6 separate regions of the Homo sapiens genome follow, and all the other regions are linked to region 3. Evidence: fine-mapped expression QTL. A gene starts in region 3. Each other region holds a variant in brackets. All regions are shown on one strand. Distances are from middle to middle.

What was found. PIP is the estimated chance that this variant, and not a neighbour inherited with it, causes the effect. A credible set is the group of variants that fine-mapping cannot tell apart.
Region 1: its variant is the best candidate, but not a certain one, in a credible set for the expression of CCR1 in whole blood (INTERVAL, PIP 0.75).
Region 2: its variant is the best candidate, but not a certain one, in a credible set for the expression of CCR1 in whole blood (INTERVAL, PIP 0.78).
Region 4: its variant is the best candidate, but not a certain one, in a credible set for the expression of CCR1 in whole blood (TOPMed, PIP 0.64).
Region 5: its variant is the best candidate, but not a certain one, in a credible set for the expression of CCR1 in whole blood (INTERVAL, PIP 0.90).
Region 6: its variant is the best candidate, but not a certain one, in a credible set for the expression of CCR1 in whole blood (TOPMed, PIP 0.82).

Annotation. Positions count from the first base shown.
Region 1 is chr3:46,071,743-46,075,851 of GRCh38, forward strand. It overlaps a transcript of XCR1 not described here. Among named protein-coding and RNA genes, the nearest start is that of XCR1, 46 kb to the left of the region's middle. The variant CTTTTTTTTT/C (reference allele first, on the strand shown) is at 2,472.
Region 2 is chr3:46,164,948-46,169,056 of GRCh38, forward strand. The region is part of intron 1 of LOC105377067 (a long non-coding RNA gene); the gene reads left to right. Among named protein-coding and RNA genes, the nearest start is that of CCR1, 41 kb to the right of the region's middle. The variant G/A (reference allele first, on the strand shown) is at 1,871.
Region 3 is chr3:46,206,709-46,210,708 of GRCh38, forward strand. CCR1 (C-C motif chemokine receptor 1) reads right to left here and starts at 1,605. Exons shown (of 2, transcript NM_001295.3): 1 at 1,574-1,605. It also overlaps a transcript of CCR3 not described here.
Region 4 is chr3:46,280,863-46,284,971 of GRCh38, forward strand. No RefSeq gene overlaps it. Among named protein-coding and RNA genes, the nearest start is that of CCR3, 40 kb to the left of the region's middle. The variant T/G (reference allele first, on the strand shown) is at 1,586.
Region 5 is chr3:46,230,843-46,234,951 of GRCh38, forward strand. It overlaps a transcript of CCR3 not described here. Among named protein-coding and RNA genes, the nearest start is that of CCR3, 9.6 kb to the right of the region's middle. The variant A/G (reference allele first, on the strand shown) is at 2,432.
Region 6 is chr3:46,082,246-46,086,354 of GRCh38, forward strand. It overlaps a transcript of XCR1 not described here. Among named protein-coding and RNA genes, the nearest start is that of XCR1, 57 kb to the left of the region's middle. The variant A/C (reference allele first, on the strand shown) is at 2,506.

The sequences.
Region 1 (4,109 bases), 130 kb before region 3:
CTGATAAAATTCAGCATCACCTCATGATAAAAACACTCAACAAACTAGGCACAGAAGGAACATACCATAAAATAATAAAGCCCCATATATGACAAACCCATAGCCAACCTCATACTGAACGGTGGAAAGTTGAAAGCATTCCCTCCAAGAACTGGAACAAGTCAAGAATGTCCACATTTACCACTCCTATTTAACATAATACTGGAAGTCCTAGCCAGAGGAATGAGGCAAGAGAAACAAATTTTAAAAATCCACATTGGAAAAGAGGTAGTAAAATTATTTCTGCTTGCTGAGGTTATGATCTTATATCTAGAAAATACTAAATCCTTTAGATTTAATAAATGAATTCAGTAAAGTTTCAGGATACAAAATCAACAGACAAAAATCAGTAGCATTTCTATAAACCAATAATGATCAAGCTGAGAACCAAATCAAGACAGCAATCCCATTTACAATAACTAAAATTAAAACAACAACAACAACAAACCACCTTAGGCTGGGTATGGTGGCTCATGCCTGTAATCCCAGCATCTTGGGAGGCTGAGGTGGGCAGATCGCTTGAGCCCAGCAGTTCGAGACCAGCCTGGGCAACATGGTGAAATCCTGTTTCTACAAAAAATACAAAAAATTAGCTGGGCATGGTGGTGCACACCTAGAGTCCCAGTTACTTGGGAGGCTGAGGTGGGAAGATTGCTTGAGTCTGGGAGGCAGACATCGTACCAATGTACTCCAGCTTGGGTGGCTGAGAGGGACCTTGTCTCAGTGAAAATAAAACAAATAAAAACAAAACAAAAAATCCTGGAAATAAATTTAACCAAGGAGGTGAAAGAGCTCTACAAGAAAAGCAGCAAAACACTGATGAAAGAAATTATAGATGACCCAAATAAAAGGACAAATATCTCATGTTCATGGATCAGAAGAATTAATATTGTCAAAATGACCATACTGCCCACAGAAATCTACAGATTCAATGCAATTCCTATCATTAGAAAAATGATGTTGATAATTTATTGGAATTAGAAACAAATTCTAAAATTTGTATGCAACCAAAAAAGAGCCTGAATAGCTAAAGTATTCCTAAGCAAAATGAACAAAGCTGGAGGCATCACATTATCTGAGTTCAAATTATACTACAAGGCTATAGTAACCAAAACAGCATGGTACTAGTATAAAGGTAGACATATAGATCAGTATGACAGAATAGAGAACCCAGAAATAAAACCACATATTTAGAGACAATTGATCTTTGACAGAGCTGACAAAAACACACACTGGGGAAAAGATACCCTGTTCAATAAATGGTGCTGGAAAAATTGAATTGCGATATGCAGAAGAATGAAATTGGAACCATATCTCTCACCACATAAAAAAATCAACTCAAGATAGATTCAAGACTTAAATATAAGACTCAAAACTATAAAAATACTAGAAGAAAACCTAGGAAAAACGAGACATTGGTATAGGCAAAGAATTAATGACTAATATCTCAAAAGTACATATGACAAAGACAAAAATAGACAAGTGGGACTTAGTTAAACTCTTCTGCACACCAAAAGAAATAAATAACAGATGCTGGGTGCAGTGGTTCACATCTATAATCCCAACACTTTGGGAGGCTGAGGCGGGCAGATCACTTGAGGCCTGGAGTTCCAGACCAGCTTGGCCAACATGGCAAAATCCCATCTCTACTAAAATATTAGCTGGGCATGGTGGCACACACCTGTAATCCCAGCTACTTGGGAGGCTGAGGCATGAGAATTGCTTGAAGCCTGAGAGCCGGAGGTTGCAGTGAGCTGAGATCATGCCACTGTACTTCATCCTGAGAGACAGAGTGAGATTCTTAAACAAAAAACAAAAAACAAAAACAACAGAAATAAACAACAGAGTGGACAGAGAGCCTGCAGAATGGGAGAAAATATTTGCGACTTATGCATCTGACAGGGGACTAATATCCAGAATTTACAAGGAATTCAAACAACTCAACAACAACAAAATACAAATAACCCCATTAAAAAGTGGGCAAAGGACATGAATAGACATTTTAAAAGAAGATATACAAATGACCAAAAAGCATATGAAAAAATGCTCATTATTACAAATCATCAGAGAAATGCAGATGAAAACCAGAACATGATACCATCTTACACCAATCAGAATGGCAATTAAAAAAAAAAAACCCAACAGATACTGGTGAAGATGTGAAGAAAAGGGAACTCTTATACATTGTTGGTGGGAATGTAAATTAGTACAACCTCTTTGGAAAATAATATGGAGATTTCTCAAAGAACTAAAAGTAGAACTACCATTGAATCCAGCAACCCCACTACTGGGTATCTACCCAAAGGAAAAGAAAATAGTTATATCAGAGATAACTTGCACATGCATGTTTATCACAGCACAATTTACAATATATATGCAATGGAATTATTATTCAGCCATAAAGCAGCAACACGAATGGAACTGAAGGCCAT[CTTTTTTTTT/C]TTTTTTTTTTTTTTTTTGAGACAGGGTCTCTTTTCTGTTGCCCAGGCTAGAGTGCAATGGCACAATCATGACTCATTGCAGCCTCAACCCCCAAGGCTCAAGTGATAGAGGTCATTATCTTAAGTAAAACAACTCAGAAACAGAAAGTCAAATACTGCACGTTCTCCTTCATAAGTGGGAGCTAAATAATGTATACACATGGACATAGAATGTGGAGTAATACACACTGGAGACTCAGAAGAACGGGAGGTAGTGGTGGGGGGTGAAGGATGAGAAATTATTTAATGGGTACAATGTACATTATTTGGGTGATAGATACACTAGAAGCCAAGACGTCATCATTATGTAATATATCCATGTAACAATGCAATTGTACCACTTAAATTTATATTTTAAAAAAAATCATAAGGAAGAAAAATATATTTACTATTCATTATGTGGAAGTAGGTCATCATAAAGGCTTTCATCCTCATTGTCTTCACACTGAGTAGGCTAAAGGAGGAAGAGGAAGAGGAGGGGTTGGTCTTACTGTTTCAGGGGTGGCAAAGGTAGACGAAATTTTGGATTTAAGTGGACCTTCCCAGTTTAAACCCATGTTGTTCAAGAATCAACTGTACTGTGAACAACTCTACACACATAAAACTTGTCAACTTAGATGAGATAAACCCACTCTTCAAAAAGCACAGACTACTATAACTCATCTATGAAACAGATAATTTGAATAGCCCTGTAACTACTAAGGACATTGAATTCATAATTAAAATCTCCCAAGAAAAAAATTTCCAGGCCCAGAGAGTTTAACTGGAAACTATTTCAAATATTTAAAGAATAATTAGCACTTTGAAAAGGAATGAAATGGGAAGAATCACTCTACCCAATTTTAAGACTTATTTCATAGCTATAGTAATATGTGATATTGGCAGAGGGACAGACACAAAGATTAATGGAAGAGAGTTAAAAAAACCCAGAAGTAGCCCCACACAAGTATGGCCCACTGGTTTTTGACAGTGGTGCCAAAGCAAGTCAATGAGGGAAGGATAGTCTTTTCAACAAATAGTGCTAGAGCAACTAGATGCTCATAGACCAAAAAAAAAAAAAAAAAAAAAACAACAAAAATCAAAACCAAGAAACCTCAATCTAAACCTTTGACCTTATACACAAATTAACTCAAATTGGATCATTGATATAAATGTAATGGATAAACTATAAAACTTTAAGAAGAAAACATAAGAGAAAATCTTTGAGACCTAAATCTTGGTGAAGAGTTCTTGGACATAACACCAAAAATATAATACATAAAAGAAAGAATAGATAAACTATTAAAATGAAAAACATTTGCCCTGCAAAAGGCCCTGTTAAGACCATCTCCAGAATGGGAGAAAATATTTTCCAACCACATATCAGACAAATAGCTCATGTCTAAAATATATATAGAATCCTCAAAATTCAACATTTAAAAAGAAAACAAAACAAACAAACAAAAAACAACCAATTCAGTTAAAAAATAGGAAATGACTTGAAGAGACATTTCATGGAAGAGGATTTTTCAAATGGCAAATGAGCACATGAAAATATATTCAATGTCACTAGCTACAAGGGAAAGGCAAATTAAGACCATGATAAGATAT
Region 2 (4,109 bases), 42 kb before region 3:
ATTGCCACACTGTCTTCCACAATGGTTGAACTAATTTACACTCCCACAGCAGTGTATAAAGGTTCCTTTTTCTCCACAACCTCTCCGGCATCTGTTATTATTTGACCTTTTAAAATAGCCATTCTGACTGGTGTGAGATGGTATCTCATTGTGGATTTGATTTGCATTTCTCTAATTATCAGTGATATTGAGCATCTTTTCACATGCTTTTTGGCCACATATATGTCTTCTTTTGAAAAGTATCTGTTCATATCCTTTGCCCACTTCTTAATCGGGTTGTTTTTTGCTTGTACATTTGTTTAAGTTCCTTGTAGATTCTGGATATTAGACCTTTGTCAGATGTATAATTTGCAAATATTTTCTCTCATTCTGTAGGTTTCCTATTTACTCTATTGATAGTTTCTTTTGCTGTGCAGAAACTCTTTAGTTTAATGAGGTCCCATTTGTAAATTTTTGCTTTTGTTGCAATTGCTTTTGGCATTTTCATTATGAAATCTTTGCCAGATTCTGTATCCAAAATGATATATTCTTGGTTTATTCCAGGGTTTTTATAGTTTTAGGTTTTACATTTAGGTCTTTAATCCATCTTGAGTTGATTTTTGTATATGGTATAAGGAAGGGGACCAGTTCCAATCTTTTGTATATTGCTAGCCAGTTATCCCTGCCCCATTTATTGAATAGGGAGTCTTTTCCCCATCGCTTATTTTTGTCAGCTTTGTCAAAGATCAGATAGTTGTAGGTGTATGGCTCTATTTCTGGGCTGCCTATTCTGTTCCATTGGTCTATGTGTCTGTTTTTGTACCAGTACCATACTGTTTTGGTTACTGTAGCCTTGTAGTATGGTTTGAAGTTGGGTAATGTGATTCCTCCAGCTTTGTTCTTTTTGCTTAGGATTGCTTTGGTTATTTGGGCTCTTTTTCAGGTTTTATATAAATTTTAGAATAGTTTTTTCTGTTCTGTGAGGAATGTCATTGGTAGTTTGATAGGAATGGCATTGAATCTATAAATTGCTTTGGGCAGCATGGCCATTTTAACAATATTGATTCTTCCTACCCATGAGCATGGAATGTTCTTCCATTTGTTTGTGTCATCTTTGACTTCTTTGAACGTGTTTTGTAATTCTCATTGTAGAGATCTTTCACCTTCTTGGTTAGCTGTATTCCTAAGTATTTTATTCTTTTTGTGGCAGTCGTGAATGGGATCATGTTCCTGATTTGGCTCTTGGTTTGGGTGCTCTTAGAGTATAGGAATGCTACTGATTTTTGTACATTGATTTGTATCCCCAAACTTTGCTAAAGTTGCTTATCAGCTCAAGGAGCTTTTGGGTGGAGATTCTGGGGTTTTGTAGATATAGAATCATGTCATCTGCAAACAGGGATGGTTTGACTTCCTCTCTTCCTATTTGGATGCCTTTTGTTTCTCTTGCCTGATTGCTTTGGCCAGAACTTCCAATTCTATGTTCAATAGGAGTGGTAAGAGTGGGCATCATTTTCTTCTGCTGGTTTTCAAGGGGAATGCCTTCAGCTTTTGCCCATTTAGTATAATGTTGGCTACGGGTTTGTCATAGATAGCTCTTATTATTTTGAGGTATGTTCCTTTAAGGCTTAGTTTATTGAGGGTTTTTAACATGAAGCAATGTTGAATTTTATTGAAAGCCTTTTCTGCATCGATTGCGATAATCATGTGTTTTGGTCTTTGGTTTGGTTATGTGATGAATCACATTTATTGATGTGTACATGTTGAACCAACCATGAATCCCAGGGATAAAGCCTACTTTGATCATTGTGGATTAGGTTTTTGATGTGCTGCTGGATTCTGTTTGCTAGTATTTTGTTGAGGATTTTTGAATCTATGGGTCATCAAGGATATT[G/A]GCCTAAAGTTTCCTTTTGTGTATGTGTGTCTATGTCAGGTTTTGGTATCAGGATGATGCTGGCCTCATAGAATGAGTTAGGGAGGAATCCCTCCTTTTCAAATTTTTGGAATAATTTCAGTAGAAATAGTACCAGCTCTTCTTTGTGCATCTGGTAGAATTCAGCTGTGAATCCTTCTGGTCCTTGGCTTTTTTTGTTGGTAGGCTATTTATTACTGATAATTTCCAAGCTCGTTATTTGTCTGTTCAGGGACTTATTCTTGACTCACTGTTGGGAGGATGCATGTGTCCAGGAATTTATCTATTTATTTTAGATTTTCTAGTTTGTGTACATAAAGGTGTTCATAGTAGTCTCTTACGGTTATTTGTATTTCTGCAAGGTCAGTGATAACATCCTCTTTGTCATTTCTGATTGTGTTTATTTGAATCTTCTCTCTTTTCTTCTTTATTAATCTAGCTAGTGGTCTATCTTATTAATTTTTTCAAGAACAAATTCCTGGATTTGTTAATCTTTTGTATGCTTTTTCATGTCTCTATCTCTTTCAGTTTGCCTCTGATTTTGGTTATTTCTTGTCTTCTGCTAGTTTGGGGTTTGTTTGCTCTTGGTTCTCTAGTTCTTCTAGTTGTGATGTTAGGTTGTTATTTGAGATCTTTCTAGATTTTTGATGTGGGCATTTAGTGCTACAAAATTCCCTCTTAACAATGCCTTAGCTGTGTCCCAGAGATTCTCGTGTGTTGTGTCTTTGTTTTCATTAGTTTAAAATAACCTCTTGATTTCTGCCTGAATTTTATTACTTACCCAAGAGTCATTCAGGAGCAAGTTGTTCAGTTTCCATGTAATTGTATGGTTTTGAGCAATTTTCTTGGCCTCAATTTCTACTTTTATTGTGCTGTGGTTCGAGAGTATAGTTAGTATGATTTAAATTTTTTTTGAGTTTGCTGAGGATTGTTTTATGTCCAACTGAATGGTCAATTTTAGAGTACGTACCATGTGGCAATGAAAAGAATGCATACTCTATTGCCTTTGGTGGAGAGTTTTGTATATGTCTATTAGGTCCATTTGTTCAAGCATTAAGTTCAGGTCTGGAATCTCTTTGTGAATTTTTTGGTTTGATAATCTGTCTAATACTGTCAGTGGGGTTTGAAGTGTCCCATTTTATTGTGTATAAATCTCAGTCTCTTTGTAAGTCTCTAAGAAATTGCTTTATGAATCTGGGCACACCTGTGTTGGGTGCTTACAGAGTTAGGATAGTTAGATCTTCTTGTTTAATTGAACCCTTTACCATTATGTAATGCCCTTCTTTGTCTTTGTTTTGTTTTGAGATGGATCTCACTCTGTCACCCAGGCTGGAGTGCGGTGGCGTGATCTCGGCTCACTGCAAGCTCTGCCTCCCAGGTTCCTGCCATTCTCCTTCCTCAGCCTCCTGAGTATCTGGGACTACAGGGGCCCGCCACCACACTCAGCTAATTTTTCTGTATTTTTAGTAGAGACAGGGTTTCACTGTGTTAGCCAGGGTGGTCTCGAGCTCCTGACCTTGTGATCTGCCCACCTTGGCCTCCCAAAGTGCTGGGATTACAGGTGTGAGCCACCGCGCCAGGCCCCTTCTTTGTCTTTTTTGTTCTTTGTTGGTTTAAAGTCTGCTTTGTCTGAAATTAGAATTGCAACCCCTGCTTTTTTGTGTTTTCCATTTGCTTGGTAGGTTTTTCTCCATCCTTTTATTTTGAGACTATGGGTGTCATTGCACAAGAGTTGGGTCTCTTGAAGACAGCATACTATTGGGTCTAGCTTCTTATCCAGGTTGCCACTCTGTGCCTTTTAACTGGGGCATTTAGCCCATTAACATTCAAGGTAAATCATTGATACGTGTGGTTTGATCCTGTTATCATGTTGTTAGCTGGTTACTATGCAGACTTCTTTGTGTGGTTGCTTTACAGTCACTGGTCCATGTACTTAAGTATTTTTGCAGTGGCTGGTAATGGTCTTTTCTTTCCATATTTAGTGCTTCTTTCAGGATCTCTGGTAAGGCTGGTATGCTGGTAACAAATTCCTTTAGCATTTGTTTGTGTGAAAGGAGTCTTATTTCTTCTTTGCTTATGAAACTATTTTGGCCAGATGTGAAAAAATCTTGGTTATAATTTCTTTGCTTTAAGAATGTTGAATATAGGCACCCAATCTTTTCTGGCTTATAGGGTTCCTGCTGAGAGTTCTGCTGTTAGTCTGATGGGCTTCTATTTGTAG
Region 3 (4,000 bases):
CAGGCAACCACTCCAAGGCATGCTGTTCCTAAAGGGAGGTGATCTGGGGTGGGGCCCGAGAAGAGAAACCAAAGGACCATGTTGTCATCTAATCTGCCAGCCCTGCTGTAGTCTACTGCAGAAGTCTGCCTCAAGGCCACTGCACAGTGGTCAGCTATAGCCCTGGATCCTGGACCCTCCACTGCTAGTGTCCTCCAGCCTGGGAGTTGGTGAAGTCTCTGAGCAGAGATAGAGCAGTCTGTGATGGTGAAAGACACCCAGGCCTATGGTGCGCTGGCTGGCTTATACTGGTTTATAAATGCCAATTGCGTGCATCTCTTCCCCACTCCACATTCAGCATGTTGGTAGCTTGAAACTGACCACAGTGGGGGCATTTATACCATGAAAATCAACAAATGTTATAAAGCAGGGATCTTTTCTTCAGAAGAGTCAGTTGTTGAACATTTACCAGCACATCACTGCCCAGGCCCCACATTCTGAACAGTCCAGCACTGTCCCACTGCTCGGTGCGGGAACTAAAGGATCAGTGAGTGGCACATAGCCTGGTGCCAGGTTGTGCAAACTTTTGGGAGTTTCCATCTCTTCTTTGAAATCTGGGACCCACCAAGACCACCTATGAAGTAGATACCTATACGGAGCCACCATGCCCCTCTATCTTCAGAACAAAATCCTGACCTGTGTCTTTGTTAGTAGAGCAGAACAGATGCCCCCCAAGATCACCTGGCCAGCTCCTTGCCTTTGGGTGAGTGAAAGCCTACCTCTTCCAAAGATAGCAGTGCCAATTTTGAGGATCCTTGGTTCTAGTCTTCTTAAGAGATAGGTTCAGTATCAAATCATCCTTGCATCTGCCAAGATTTTTCTAGCTAATATTTCCCTCTTGCTATAATTTCTTCATACACCATGTTTGGTTTTCCTTTACATGGGGGAATTTGGCAAGCAATTTTTTTTTTTTTTTCAGACAGACTCTTGCTCTGTCGCCAGGCTGGAGTGTAGTGGTGCAATCTCAGCTCACTGCAACCTCCACCTCCCGGATTCGAGTGATTCTCCTGCCTCAGCCTCTTGAGTAGCTGGGACTACAGGCATGCGCCACCATGCCCGGCTAATTTTTATTTTTAGTAGAGACAGGGTTTCACCATATGGCCAGGATTGTCTCCATCTCTTGACCTCATGATCCACCTGCCTCGGTCTCCCAAAGTGCTGGGATTACAGCCGTGAGCCACTGCGCCCCGCCAAGTAATTTCTTATTGAATAGGTTTCCACAGAAAACACCTTTTGTCCCTTAGTACTGACTGACTTTCTTAATCAGTAACCAAAAGCCAATCCTTCAAGTAAGCTTCCTTTTTAGCAAAAAAGCCTATATTTCATCTGAGCACCCAGCTTTATAAATCCACCATTCTCAGTATTGCTACAGTATTAATTGCCTTGGAGATGCATCCATGGGCTACTTAGACATTTGCCCAGCCTACTCAAAGAATTCCCCCTACCTTTGAGGAGCCCCTAGCTGCATGCATGTCTTTGAACAACACTGCCCTCCACAGTAACAGATAAGACAGAAAAGACAAGTGACACTTACTCTGGTTCCAAGGGACTTTGTCCGTGAAGTCTTTGTTTCTGGGGCTTTCTGGGTTTTTATGAATTCAAGTTTCAAGATCCTGACCAAGTAGGAAGTACTCAGCTTCCTGTGTGATGATGGAGAATTGGCTCCAGTTTCACAGTCTTTCAAAATGACAAGAAAGGGACAAAGTTCTTCTTTTTGTGTGGTTTGGTGCTCATGAATGGCCACAACGCCCACCAGTGGCCACTTCCTGGAAGCCAAGTTAACTGCGAGGATTTTCTCTGCTCACTCTGAGCCTCTTGAGTCTTGGCCCTGGGAGCTCAGCCTTAAGGGAATTGGGGGCAGGTGAAGCTGAGTTGGGTGAGGTGGGTGGCAGTGAGATGTTCCCAGAATGTTTGGAGCAATTGAAGTGTGGGATGTGTGTATGTGGGATGGGGGCAGGGCATAGAGCTCTTGTGGTCAGCGGCAGACTTCTTTTTTTTCTTCTTCTTAAAGATTGTGAATGGAAGGATTTAAACTGGAACCCTGAGTCCTGTTCCTCAAAACTAACTGACATGGGTGCTCACAGAGGCAGCAGCTTCTCTTTGGCACCCTATGCCCCTCGGCTTCTGGGAGCTCATTGTCCCTCTGCTCTCTGCTCCCCAAGTCCCTCCCCACCAAACCTCAGAGAGTGGCTTTGCCCCAGGAACCTCCAGCATGAAGGGAATATAGGTCTGTTGGTTACATTTTGACCTTCCCTTTCTGATGCCCCATTCCTGTTTTACGTGATGGTCAAACATGGGCCAAGTTCAAATCCCAGCTCTCCACCTGTGACATGGGCAGATCACTCACCTTTCTAAGTCTTGGTTCCTACTCTGCTAAATGGGAGTATTGAATGCTTACCTCAGAGGAGAAGCACGAAGTCAACTTGTACATGAAAAATGTCAGAGTGCCTGGCACAGTGAAAAATGTCTGACAAATGATGAGTACTGTGACTCTCCTCACAACTGCCAACACCTACTCTGCCTCTGCCCTTGTGTCTTCTATAAAGTGGGGACACCCCTAACCTTCCTCACGGCATTGCTACAAAGCACTGTTTCAGAAATCATCAGTGTGAATGTGCTTTGAAAAGATCACTTGTCTCTTCATGGTTCAGTTTTCTTATCTGTAAAATGAAGAATTCAGACAAGATGGCCTAAGCTTGACATCTGATCATCACTCAGCTTCACCCCAAAGAAATAAATGGGGGTCTGCATGTGCCTGGCTATTTGCAGTACTTTGCTGGTGGATCAGTTTCCAAAGAGAACAGAGGCTTGTGAGGCCTGCCTTTTCCTTGATCCTGTCTAAAGTAAGGGACATGGTCAGTACCTCATCCTTGACCAGGCTTCCAGCTCTGCTCTAGGTTTCATTCCACAGAGGGGATGTACCAGGCAAATCTGCTTGTTCATTGAACAAATATTTATTCAGTACTCACAATGTGCCGGACATTGTGTTAGGTGCTTGGGATATAGTGGTGAAGAAAGAGGCTGGATCCATTCTTTGAGAGCTTATAGCTTAGGAAGGATCACAAACAATTAACCAAGTTACCACAATGAGGAACAGCTTTTGTAGTGGCCTGGGAAATACCCTGGGCTAAGGAAGGGTGCATCGAGGGTGGGAAGGGGTGAGGAAGTCCTTTAGAGCAGTGGTTCTCAAAGTGAGGTCCCTGGACCAGCAGCATTCACATTCCCTGGGACATTGCTAGCCATGCAAGTTCTGGGGTTACATGCCAGATATACTGACTCAGAAATCCTGGGGATGCGGCCAAGCAATCCAGGTTTTGACAAAGACTGGCATGATTCTGATGCATGCTTAAATTTGGGGGGCATGGATCTAGATTTTCTCAATGCTTTTGGCTCAGAGTCCCATGTGATCTTTCTTCAGAAGAGTTAGGCTGGACCAGCTATGAGCTAGGAAGCCTTCTTTCTCTCTTTAGCTCAAGGCCTAAACAAGAGGCTGCTCAGTTGCCTGCTCTGTCTCCCCTCCCACACCCACACTCAGGTCTCCTATGGCCTTGCAAACCCCTTAGTGCACACACCCCTCTCACCACAGCAGATGTGTACAATGGGGGCAGCACAGAGAGACAAGAGAGAAACCAGCAAAGAGGGATGACCTTGCTCCATTCATTTCTCTTAAAAGCCCTTTGACTCCTCTCCTTAAAAGCTGTAGTGTTCTCTCAAGGTTGCCGTATTGTCCTTGATCCACATCAATGTTCCTCTTCCTTGGAGAGAAGGGGGAGATGTGGGCAGCTTCCTTTGCCCCAGAGAGGTTGCAGTGGAAGCCCAGCACTAAGCCAAACCCTGTCCTGAGACAGCCTTCCACCCCAGCCTTGGCACCAATGTTCAGGGAAGAGATGCAGGGGACCCTGCCAGTGGTGGATGTGGATGACTCTGTCTTTAACACCTGCAGAGCTCATGGACCCTGGCC
Region 4 (4,109 bases), 74 kb after region 3:
TAGGTGATAGAGTTTTGATGTGACTTTGTATCATCGTAGGCAGAATTTGGCCCAGAACCCACCTTGTGATTTTCACCAGTCTCCAGTGCAGTGTTAGAATGAACATACTTAGTAGGCCGGGCGCAATGGCTCACGCCTGTAATCTCAGCATTTTGGGAGGCCGAGGCGGGCAGATCATGAGGTCAGAAGTTCGAGACCAGCCTGGCCAATATGGTGAAACCCCATAACTACTAAAAAAAAAAAAAAAATACAAAAATTATCCAGGCATGATGGTGCCGGCCTGTAGTCCCAGCTACCCGGGAGGCTGAGGCAGAAGAATCGCTTGAACCTGGGAGGCAGAGGTTGCAGTGAGCCAAGGTCGCGCCACTGCACTCCAGCCTGGGCAACAGAGCAAGACTCCATCTCAAAAAAAAAAAAAAAAAAAAAAAGAATGGGATTCCCATTAGGCTTTCAGACAGTAAATAATGGCTACAACAGAGGAAGGCCCAAGTGGAAGCCACTGAAGGCCCCCTGCCCATACAAAGCAGAAAATCAAAAACAACGCTCTATCCTATGAAGAAAATAGCAGATTAGTCTCATCACAGATAAGAAAGACACAGATATGTTGATTCCTGTCATACCTCCTTTTAATGCTCCAGTTTTGCCAGTAAAAAAATTTAAAAAATAATAAAATAAAATAAATTGATGGGTCTTGGGGAATAGCCATGGAATGTTACGACTAAATCAGATGGTGACTTTCACTGTGTGTGTTGTCTTCTAAGTTTGGTCCCCTTGCTGAGGCAAATCATTACAGTCATGGTATTTGGCATGTAGATGCCAGTCTAGAGTAGGGGCTGGCAAGCTTTTTCCTAAAGGGCCAGATAGTAAGTATTTTAGGCTTTCAAGCCAGCTGGTCTCTGTCACAACTACTCAACTCTGAAGTTGTAGCAAGAAAGCAGCCACAGACAACATGTCAGTGCATGGGCACAGCTGTGTTCCAGTAAAACTAGTTTTCAAACACAGGCACCTACACACTGGAGTTTGCTAACTTCAGATCAGGAAAATACAGTTTTCTCCCTTTTGGTACAGAGAGGCACCCAAAGAAGCAGTTTGTCTCCAGCTGTCAGGAGCAGAGTACACGCTGCCATCCTGCCTGGGAGTGATGCTACTTTCAGGTGATTTGCCTCACTGTAATCTGCAGGGACCTTGTGACTGCATCACCTGACAGGACATCACTTTGGTCCACATGGTTAATATTGTGCTGAGAGGACCTGGGAAACGGGAATAACAAAAACCTTCAATGTCTTGATAAAACACACGGCTGACAGAGAGTGAAAGATAAAGCCGGAGAAAATATCAGAGTCTCCAACTTCAGGCAAGAGGTGAGGTCCAGTGAAAGCAGATAGCCTCAGTGTGTGGAGTCCATGCCTGGTCTCCTTCCCTGTGCCACTGTTTACGCTGTTCATGAGCCTCTGAGAAATCATCTGGCTGCCATAGGAAGGGTGACCCAGCATGTGCTATTTTCCAAGTTTCTTCCATCCTGGGGGGCATTTTGGTGAGAATTCACATGAGATATGAACATTTTTAGGTTTGGGTCTCATTCAAA[T/G]AAATCCATTGACATACTCCTCCAAATCTTGATAACAATTTTCCATTTAATTCCTTCTGTCTTCCCTTACATCTAACCATATATAATAAACACTTTCTAGAAATATGTGTAGATTCTGACCCTTGGTGATCTCTCCTTCGAAGCAAAGAGGACACTATGATAAACACCTTGATTTCTGCCACCTGGGAGGTGTCTTCTCCACTTGTCCTTTAGGGCTACCCCTGAGAGGGGCTGAATCTAACACAATCTACCTCAGGTTGGTGCAAGCAAAGTGCAGAGTCCTCTATCCATAAGACAGGCATGAGTGTTTTCATCCTCAGACAGATCATCGCAGCCAACTTCCTGGGAGGCCACAGGTCCAGGTGAAGGGAGAGGATGGCAGTTGTTGGGACTAGGGATGGGATAGGCATGAATAACCTGCCCATGCTGCCTTTCGAACCTGTGTGGATTACATCCTATATAATCCCACTTCCCCTTTATGATGCAGTGTTATTGGGTCTCTCTGTGGCAAAGTAGGTCAGGTGGCAGTCAGTTCATAATAAACAACCTGAGTGTCATGGTAAGCTGGTGTCTCATAGTCAAACTCTCAGAGTCCCCTGGAGTCCAGTAACAACCCAGGACTTATTTTTTTGCTGAAAGGGATGTAGCATTTCTTCGCCCTCCAAGGGGCTGCTGCCATGCTCCTGTCCAGGCTTGTATCCAAAATTTGACTCAAGGAGTTCAAGAATAGCAAAAACGGGTGTCATCGCAAAGTAGAATACCCAGTAGTAGTAGTAGCAGCAGCAGTAATAGCAGTAGTAGCAGTAATAGTAGTTGTTGTTGTTGCTGTTGTGATTCAGGAAAAACTCCCAGAATGGAAGTACACAGGTCTGTGAGATGAAGGGGGTACCAAGTACCCACCAGGATAAATGGACACAGACCCTCTTCCGAGCACATCATTATGAACTTTCAGAACAACAGGGATAAATATATTGAGAGCTTTTAAGAGGGGGAAAAACAGGTAACAGAAAGGAATAGAAATGGACTTGACATCAGATTCTCAATGACAACATTGGCTGATACAAGACTGTGGGGCAACAGCATCACAGTTTTGAGAAAATATTATGTTCAGCCCAGAAATCTCTACAGAGCCAACGTATGAGATCCACTGAGGCTTGAATATAGATATTTTTAGACACAGAAGGATTTTGCAATTTACCTTCCATTTACCCATTCTCAAGAAGAGACAAAATATATGCTTTAGCAAAATGAAGAGGTAACCAAGAAAGAGGAGATCCTAGGATCTTAGAAATGAGTTCAACACAGGACAGTGGCAAAGGAATCTCCAGGACCTCCACAGAAGCCTGTCCAGACTGGTATTGAGAAAGGACATGAAATTTGTAGGTTTCGAATATTTTAAAAAATTATTGTTGGGCCCATGACAGATCAAATTTGAGCATTTTGGAAATTGGTGATAAGTATTTTTACAAAGTAAGCAGATGGAAAAAATCAAAAGAAACTACTATTAACTCCAAGAATATAAAACATTAGCTCAACAGTGAATAATACTTATGTGGTCATAATAACATGAACACTGACTAGTCATTTAACCAGAAACTGTCAAAAAACCATATTGAGAGGATGTTGGGAGGGGAAGGAAGTGTAAGCTAAATCCTCACCTACAAGAACAGGAAATCAATAAATTCTGTCTAAAATTGATACATTATGAAGTAGCAATCAATATAAGCATGTTACTTAACACTTAGGGCAGCACCAGAGAAACAGCCAACAGAGTTGAAAGTGGTTGCCTCATAGGAGTGGGCAGGGGTGGGGAGGGGATGGGGCAGGAAATGCTATTTCTAATTTCTTAACTATGCACTATTACATCTTGATAACTTTTTCTTTTTGGACGGGGTCTCGCTCTGTCACTCAGGCTGGAGTGCAGTGTCATGATCATGGCTCACTGCAGCCTCAACCTCCCAGGCTCAAGCAATTCTCCTGCTTCAGACTCCCAAGTAGCTGGGACTACAGGCGCACACCACCATGTCTGGCTAATTTTTGTATTTTTTTATAGAGACAGGGTTTTGCCATGTTGCCCAGGCTGGTCTCAAACTCTAGGACTCATGTAATCCACCTGCTTTGGCCTCCCAAAGTGCAGGACTACAAGGCATGAGCCACCTCAACTGGCCTGTAACTTGATAACTTTTAAAAACTTGATGTTATTAGGTGAAGAAGTAAGAGCAAAAATATAATAAAATAAGAATAGAAGAGTATGATTAAACTATAAACACAATTCCTTACTGTGTACCAGACACTGACAATTGAAAGACATAAACACAAACTTGGCCATTCACTCCTTAGTAACCAAACACAGAGAAAACACTTCCCATTATAGATGCTAGAATATTATCAGATTATTAGAGCAATACTAAACTAGAGGCCAACCAACTACACATTTTGGGAAATGTTGAATGGTCCAATGTTAGCTAAAAATCAGTACCTGGCCACGCTAAGGCCAAAACTGTCACCATCATAGAAAAAATTG
Region 5 (4,109 bases), 24 kb after region 3:
GGGCAGGGACCTAGGCACATGTTTTTATTCATTCAGGATTTGTGCTGCTCAAAACAGATTTTGATCCGTTTTTTGTTTGTTTTGTTTTTTGTTTGTGTTTTTGAAGGTGTCTCGCTCTGTCGTCCAGGCTGGAGTGCAGTGGCGCGATCTTGGCTCACTGCAACCTCTGCCTCCCGGGTTCAAACGATTCTCTTGCCTCAGCCTCCCGAGTAGCTGGGATTACAGGCACACACCATCACACCCAGCTAATTTTTGTATTTTTAGTAGAGAAGGGGTTTCACCATGTTGGCCAGGATAGTCTCGATCTCTTAACCTCATGATCTGCCCTCCTTGGCCTCCCAGAGTGCTGGGATTACAGGCATAAGCCACTGTGCCAGGCCCAGATTTTGACAAGTTTTAAAAGTGCCCAGATTAATCTTGTGGATGAGATGCAAAACAGCACTCCATATGGAAATGGGCTGTGCACCCCTCCCTACATGACTTTCTGAGAATCCTGATCGCCACTGCAGTTTATAGAAGGCTCCAAAACACTTTATTACTCAGGTGTGAACAAAGCAGAGATTACATCTTCCCACAATAAGAAATATTTCTGGTTGTTACTTGTAGGAAAAGGAGCGGTTAGCTTCAATATCTATTATCTATCTATCTGTATTAGTCAACGAGCACAAAGTTTCAGTTACAGAAGATGAATAAGTCCTAGAGATGTACTGAACAGCATGGTGCCTCTAGCTAACAACACTGCATCGTATACTTAAAAATGTGCCAAGAGGGTAGATCTTACGTTAAAGTAATAATCTTGATAAATAGGACAGGAGGAAACTTTTGAAGTGATAGTTGTGTTTATGGTATAGATTATGATGAGGGTTTCACAGGGGTATATTTCTCTCCAAACTCATCAAGTTGTATAGATTAAATATGCACAGCTTTTTGTATATTATACTTCAATAAAGTGGTTTTTAAAAAAGATCCATTATTCATCCACCCCTCTTATCTTGTTTCAGGAGAAACAAGATCTATTGATCTATCCCATCTCTTTCCCTGCCCCAATGTCTCTCTTGCATTTCCAGGGGCCCATGTGACAGTGTGAGGTACCATGGAAATAAGAACTTCACATATTTTACTTGGGTAACATTATATGAATTTGTTCCTGTTTATTGGAAGTGCATTGTTTTTGCATTTAATTAGGAAGTATTTTCCATATCCTGGGGAGAAAAATGTATTTTCTGCATAATTTCTAAATCATTGTTCAATTTTTTTCTTCATCGTCATATTTATTTACTGAGTTTGATACTAGATTTTTGATGTTCTTATAAAAAAATGAAAATGAGCAAAATGAAACACACAGAATGGTTAGAGGAACAAGCAACAACACAATCCCTCACGGGAATGCCCTGAAGGAATATGTTGAAGCTAATTTGAACATGAAGGTTACGTCTGTCCAGATCTCTAAAAGCAGCCACCAAGCAGGTTTTACACAGGGAAAGATTTTGTTGGAAAAGCACCTGGGAGGGAAAGTGGGCTGGAGCAGGAAGGGCTGGGAAAGCCGGCAGAACCCCAGTGAGGTAGCAGGGGAACCAAGCGGTAGTAGACGCATCCTAGACTGTTCTGCAGCCTGAGGAAGGTTTGGCATAGCCACGTGGGGGTCCTTAAGCTAATGTCAGTGCATCTCTAGGGATTGGGCCTGCCTCAGTATCCCTGTGTGCTCAGTCATTGGAAGCACAACATTGATTTCAGAGCCTGCAGAGGGGTCTTAGGCTTTCTGGAGTGGGAGGGGCATGTTCATGGCTGCACCGGTGGTTTGCCCCATCCTTGGTGCCATTCTGGATGTGATGTTGCACTGATGGTAAATATCAAGGCCCAGATCAATGCTAGACTCTTGTTCACCTGTTATCTTGAAATCACAGGTGGCCCACCACCTCCCCCAATAGCACAGCTTCCACGTTCTCACTCCTGTCTCTTTTGTAGAATAGGCTATCTATCAGGGGAATAATCCTTTTTTGTGTTTTTCTAGATGAAGTCTTGCTCTGTTGCCCAGGCTGGAGTGCAGTGGCACAATCTCGGCTCACTGCAACCTCTACTTCCTGATTTCAAGCAATTCTCCTGCCTCAGTCTCCCGAGTAGCTGGGATTATAGGCACACGCCACCACGCCTGGCTAATTTTTGTATTTTTCGTAGAGACGGGGTTTCACCATGTTGGCCAGGCTGGTCTCGAACTCCTGACCTCGTGATCCACGTGTCTCAGCCTCCCAAAGTGCTGGGATTACTGGCGTGAGCCACTGCACCCGGCCCATAGTCCTTTTTGTAAAGCTTTCACAGGAGGGTGACGTGCTGTCAGTGGAGGGAACACAGAAATACACAGGATTGCCAACGTGCTAGAGAGGGGCCCTGCTGGCTACAAAAGTCCTTCCACTAACTTCACTAGAAAAGTGAC[A/G]GTAAACACAAGTCTGGCTGGAGCCCCACATTTCTGGCCCTGGTGCCCGGGAAGGAAGGTGGGTGCATTAAAGGAAGCTTTGCACTTCTCCCTGCTGCTCTGGCAATCGTTTCCGTTCACATGCTCAAGGTTGTGGCTTGACCTATGCTCTCCTGCAAAATATTGCTGACCCTTTCCTATTTCTGAGGTTCTTTGCTTTTCCCCTCCCATGTTCCCATACTCCTAAGCTATCTTCTGCGTGTGTTGTTGTTGTTTTGGCTCTTTTTTCCCGCCCCCCAGAAATGTGTCTGCTTCAGTGTAATGTGGCAGTGAGAATCTGGGAGATTGGAAGACATTTGTGTTTGGTTGGGTTTTCCCACACACCTCTGTTTTTCCTGTGAGCTAAGAACCCCAAAAGAAGCATCAAAAATTTCTTTCCCGTGGTAGGAAAAGCCAGGACAGAACGAGCCATTCTGGACCTTGGGGAAACCACTTTGTGTTCTGGTTTCCTTCAGGTTTGATGCCATCCTCACCTTTGGCTGAAGGGCAACAGGCAACTCTTCTTCAGACGGCAGTACCATGCCGGAAAACAGAGCACCATGTGGCTAGCCCAAGCTCTGGGGTAGAGCCAGCTCTGCCCTTCACTCTCTGTGGCTTTTGCCAAGTCCCTCATTGAGTCTCAGCTTCCCCATCTGCAACACAGGGGTAAGGTAGCAGGGTTGCAAGAGCATCCTGCCACCTCCTGGGCTGCAATGGATACCCCGTCAAGGTAAGACAATGGACAGGGGGCAGTATGCCCTTGTAGTGCCTGTGCATGCATCAGGCCGGCACTGCTCAGAGTGCTCCTGAGGCATCCTGACCTTGAGAGATGTTAACACTTGTCATTTGAAAAGTATTTTTTTTCTAAGTTAAAGATAGGTTTGAGAAATGCTGGATTAGGAAGGTTTCAAACAGATTCATCACTACAGGACTTCTCAGGGGCCTTTAATGCACTGTGAATCTCCAGGAGTGTTTTCTAACAGTGCATGCTTTTATCCTAAGAGACATTAAATGTATTGGGATGGATTCATTGGTTTAATCAATGGGTAGTTCATGAGAAGCTTCAACCTGAAAGGCCTGAGGGCTCTTGATACCCAAGAAAGCCCAGGGGAGATCCTTGACATCTGTGAAACATCAGATCCAAGATCTCCCAGAGTGACCACATACCCTTTCAGAGTCCACTTGGGCTCCAGATGTTATCTGGAGCCATATTTCTACCAAGAATTTATGTGGTTGTGCTTATCCTCACATAAATTAAGCCTCGTTTTAACATTCTATAAAGCTTAGTCTTGCAATTGATGAGCACTCATTGCCCTAACTGGAGCACCCCACAAAATACCCCCTGATTTCCCTTGTTTTTATGTGGAACACACAGTAGAGTCACTCCCATGAAGATCTGAGTCACTGCTGAATTCCATATTCCTGTCGATAATTTATCCCAAATTTATGTTTTCTGCCCCAGAACCACTGCTTTTTAAGATTTCTTTATTATGGCTTTCCTTCCACCACCATCACCAGCATTTAGCTTGTTTTATGAAGAAATGAAGCTCTTTGGTTGTTTAAATCACTTCTGGGGAATTCTAAGGCTACAGTGAGTGGTGAGGATGGAGTTGACCAGGTCCACTCACCAGGTGGAGGGCTCACGCCCATGCATAGCCCC
Region 6 (4,109 bases), 120 kb before region 3:
TCATGATTCTAATGCCTACCACACCTGAAATATTTGCTCTCCTTTTTCTATTGACTGGAATACTTATGGCGTTAGGCCTCCATACTGTGAGTATCCTCTCTTGGATAAAATTGTTTTGGTAAAATCATCATATATATATTTATATGTGCATATATACATGCATACACACACACACACACACACATATATTCTCTTAGGATATATGTAAACAAATGCCTATAATCAGGCTCCTTTTTTTTTTTTTTTTTTTTTTCCTTTTTTTAGAGATGGGGTTTTGCTCTGTTGCCCATGCTGGAATGTAGTAACATGATCATAACTCACTGCGGCCTCCAACTCCTGGGCTCAAGCAATCCTCCCGACTCAGCTTCCCGAGTAGCTGGGGCAACAGAAGTGCACCACCACACCCAGCTAATTAAAAAAAAAATTGTAGAGAAGGGTCTTGCTATGTTGACCACACTGGTCTCAAACTCCTGGCCTTAAGTAATTCTCCCACCTCGGCCTCTCAAAGTGCTGGGATTACAGGCATTAGCCACTGCACCTGGCCTAGGTTTCTGTTTTTGCCGTCCCTGATAAATTTGACTGTAGCATGGAGGGATAATTCTCTGATCAGAATCCCACACACCATTGCCACTGCTGGAAATCTGAAGAGATGCTGGGTTTGCTACCCTAAACCAAAAACTACTTTTGACCACAATGACCCACTGGTACATTCTGCCCTAAATTTCACCAGTGTTCATGATAGCACTTGTAACACAACTCAGGGCCACATAAAAGCAAACCTGTTAATCAGGTCTGCCTGACTCATCCTAACCTGTTTGTCCTATGTTTCAATGTAACTCATCAGAATTCTTTTGTCAAAAATCACTGCTGCGTTACTCACTAATGACAGTACTAAAATCCATGATGTTGTTAGAAAATCCAAAGAAAACAGCCCCTCCAGCTATCAGGATCCTGTCTTCTTGCTTTAACATTTCTGACCCATTGATCCAGTAATGCCTCAAAACTGATGTTCTTAAATTATAGTGTACTTATCTGTGCTCCACCAGGATTTATTATAGTCTGTGGAGAAAATCACCAGCCATGGTCCTGTAAGTGTCTAAGAGCATGGAATGTTGAAGGGCAATATGTCTTAGGATATTTCGTTACCCTTCTCTCTATATACAGCTCTGAAGAAACTCAGCACTGGACTAGTTCCCTCAAACTTTTCTCTAGGCATGACTGCAGATCTACCTTAGATGGAGATTCTATTTAGAGAAAATGTGCTAATTATCTGGCTGGCCATCAAGAAGATAGCTCCATGCATTTTTTTTTCTTTGAGAATACTTTTGCCTTTGTTGGATGTAACTTCCCATGAACACATGATCTAAAATCCTTCTAAAACCCTAGGAAACATTGCTGATGAAACTGCTGTCTCCATCACAGCTCAACAAAAAGCTACAGATTTACTGACTAAGGTTGTGCTAGACAATCACATTGCTTTAGATTCTATATTAGCTGAGCAAGGAGGTGGATATGTGGTGGCAAATACCTCTTGTTGTATATACATAAGTATTTCCCATGAAGTAGAAACTCACCTAGGAAAAATCAGGGAAGAAGCTGCTTGACTACAGGTCTCTAAAGAAAAACTGAGATTTAATTTTCTTCAGGAGGTTTTTAGTTGACTCTTAACAGACTAGATTCCTTTTTCATTCTGGCATAAAAATTCTCTTTTTGGTTCTAATCCTATGTGCATTATATATTTCTATTATTCCAATTAATGCTAGATATCTTTCATTGTTTTATTTCTTCTGAGAAAATGAAAATCATGGTATTCCAGAGACTGGCGATGATGGAGCAAACAACAGCAGCTATGTAAGTCAATACTTTGTGGACTCACTTTTGCCATTCTGTATTGTCATCCTGATTCAGCTTTTTGGTGCTCTTAAAATTCCTCACTGAGATGTCTCCACTCCCCCATGTGGGACAGGGCTACCCAGGAATGAGCCTTCCTGGTGACAAGGGACAAGCTGGCACTCAGATTTGTATCATCAGTGCTTTTGAGGAGAAAAATTTGTGATCAAAAGGAAGGAAATGAGAGCAAAAGGAAACTTTTAATCATAGGAATGTGAGCCCTTTTAAATTATCAGTCCCAGAAAAGCATTGGAATGAAAAGCTATCACATCTCATGCCTCCCTTGAGCTAAGTAATTACCTCTTGAAGCCACTTGCTATGTGGACTCTAGACTAACTGATGCCAAGTAGCTATAAAATGCCATGCACTGGACGCCATAACTCATATCCTCCAGCTCAACAATGTAAAGCCAATCCCTAATCAATGTAATTTCTATAAACCAATGAGAATTCCTGCCAACTTTTTATCAGCTCACTCCTTGCTTTCTTTTTGTCTTTAAAAATCCACTTGTACAGATGTAGCTGGAGGCCATTATCCTAGGCGAATTAATGCAGGAAAAGAAAACCAAATACTGAATGTACACGCTTATAAGCAAGAGCTAAACACTGGGCACAC[A/C]AAGACATAAAGACGGAAACCGTAGACACTGGGGGCTACTAGAGGGTGGAAGAAAGGAGTGGGGTAAGAATTGAACAACTATCTTATTGGGTACTATGCTCACTACCTGGGCGATGGCATCAGTCATACCCCAAACCTCAGCATCTTGCAATATACCCATGTAACAAATGTGCATATGGTACCTCCCGAATCTAAAATAAAAGTTGGATTTTTTTTTTAAAGCCTGAATGCAACAAAAGCTGGATGGAGTACTCCCCAAGGCAACTTGGAAGGGTGTCCTGGGCAGCTGGCCTCACATTGGCTCAAGTAAAGTCTTTAAAATTACATTTTGTGCTCAGCTTCTTCATTTTAGGTGGACAGCACTTGCAGAAAACCTTGCCCCTCTTAAGGAGTTCCTGTAATCATGATAGCTAATACATGGAGCAGCCTATGTCTGCTCTAAGCATTTGACATATATTATTAAAAAAAAAAAAAAAAGGTTCCATCACCGCAAACACAACTCATCACACCGCGAACACAAGAGGCAGGTACTAATGTGATCTACATCTATACAGATTAGGGAACTGAGGCACAAGGAGGCAAGTAACTTGGCCAAAGTCATGCAGCCAGGGAGCATCAAAGCTGGCTTCAGTCTTTATTCCTAACCAGCCTCTTGAATTCCTCTGATGCTTTCGATCTTATCATGACAATTGTTCTGCAGCCTGTATTGTGGTCCAAGTATTTTTTTCTCCATTTTAAACACTTTGAGTTTGCACTCCATCCTGTCTGCCCCTCCCCTTCACAGCAAATTTCTTGAAAGAATAGGCCACGTTCACTCTCCTTCCAGCAGCAAGCCTGCCATCAGTTTTCACTCCCAAGGTCAGGAGTCTGGCCTTGGCCTGGCTCACTGATCTGCCTGTGCACTGTTCCCCAATACTCCCACTCACTTCCATGTCTCAACAATCATGCATAATGCCGGCACCCCCAACCCCATACATTCAGTCCAAACCTCCCTCTTGAGCTACAGATCTACAGTGGTCAACCTTGGTGTAGGGCCTCCTTACTTGGTGTAGTCCTTGGTGTGACAGCAGCATCTGGGAGCTTGTTAGAAATGCAGTTCTGGGCCCAACCCAGACATGCTGAATCAGACTCTGCATTTTAGTAGGACACTCCCCTGACCCAGCAGATTCTTGGGCACAACAGAGTCTGAGCAGTGTGATGTCTTGTGACATAGCAGTTACTGTAATGCTCTCCCATGCCTCTACCTGCTGGTGCACCCATGCCTTAGGTGCTAAGAGTCCTGGCTGCTAACTTCTCATACCTGCACTCTTCTCTGGAGGATGGCTCAAGCCCGTCTGCACATTCCAGTCACCTGGGGATATATTAAAATGTCCAAAGCCAGGCCCCACCACAGGCCAAGGAAATCACAATCTCTGAGGTTGGGATCTGACATCAGCATTTCTGAAGCCCAAGAGTTGCCCTTAGACAGACATGTTTGGGACTCACTACCATAGCTGATGGGTGCTGCCTTGCTTAGAGGTTCTGGAGCTTTCTCATACTCCTCCCAGCTGCCCATGACTAGCGGCTGACTGATGCTGGGCCACAGAAGCTCAGCCACCTGTCGT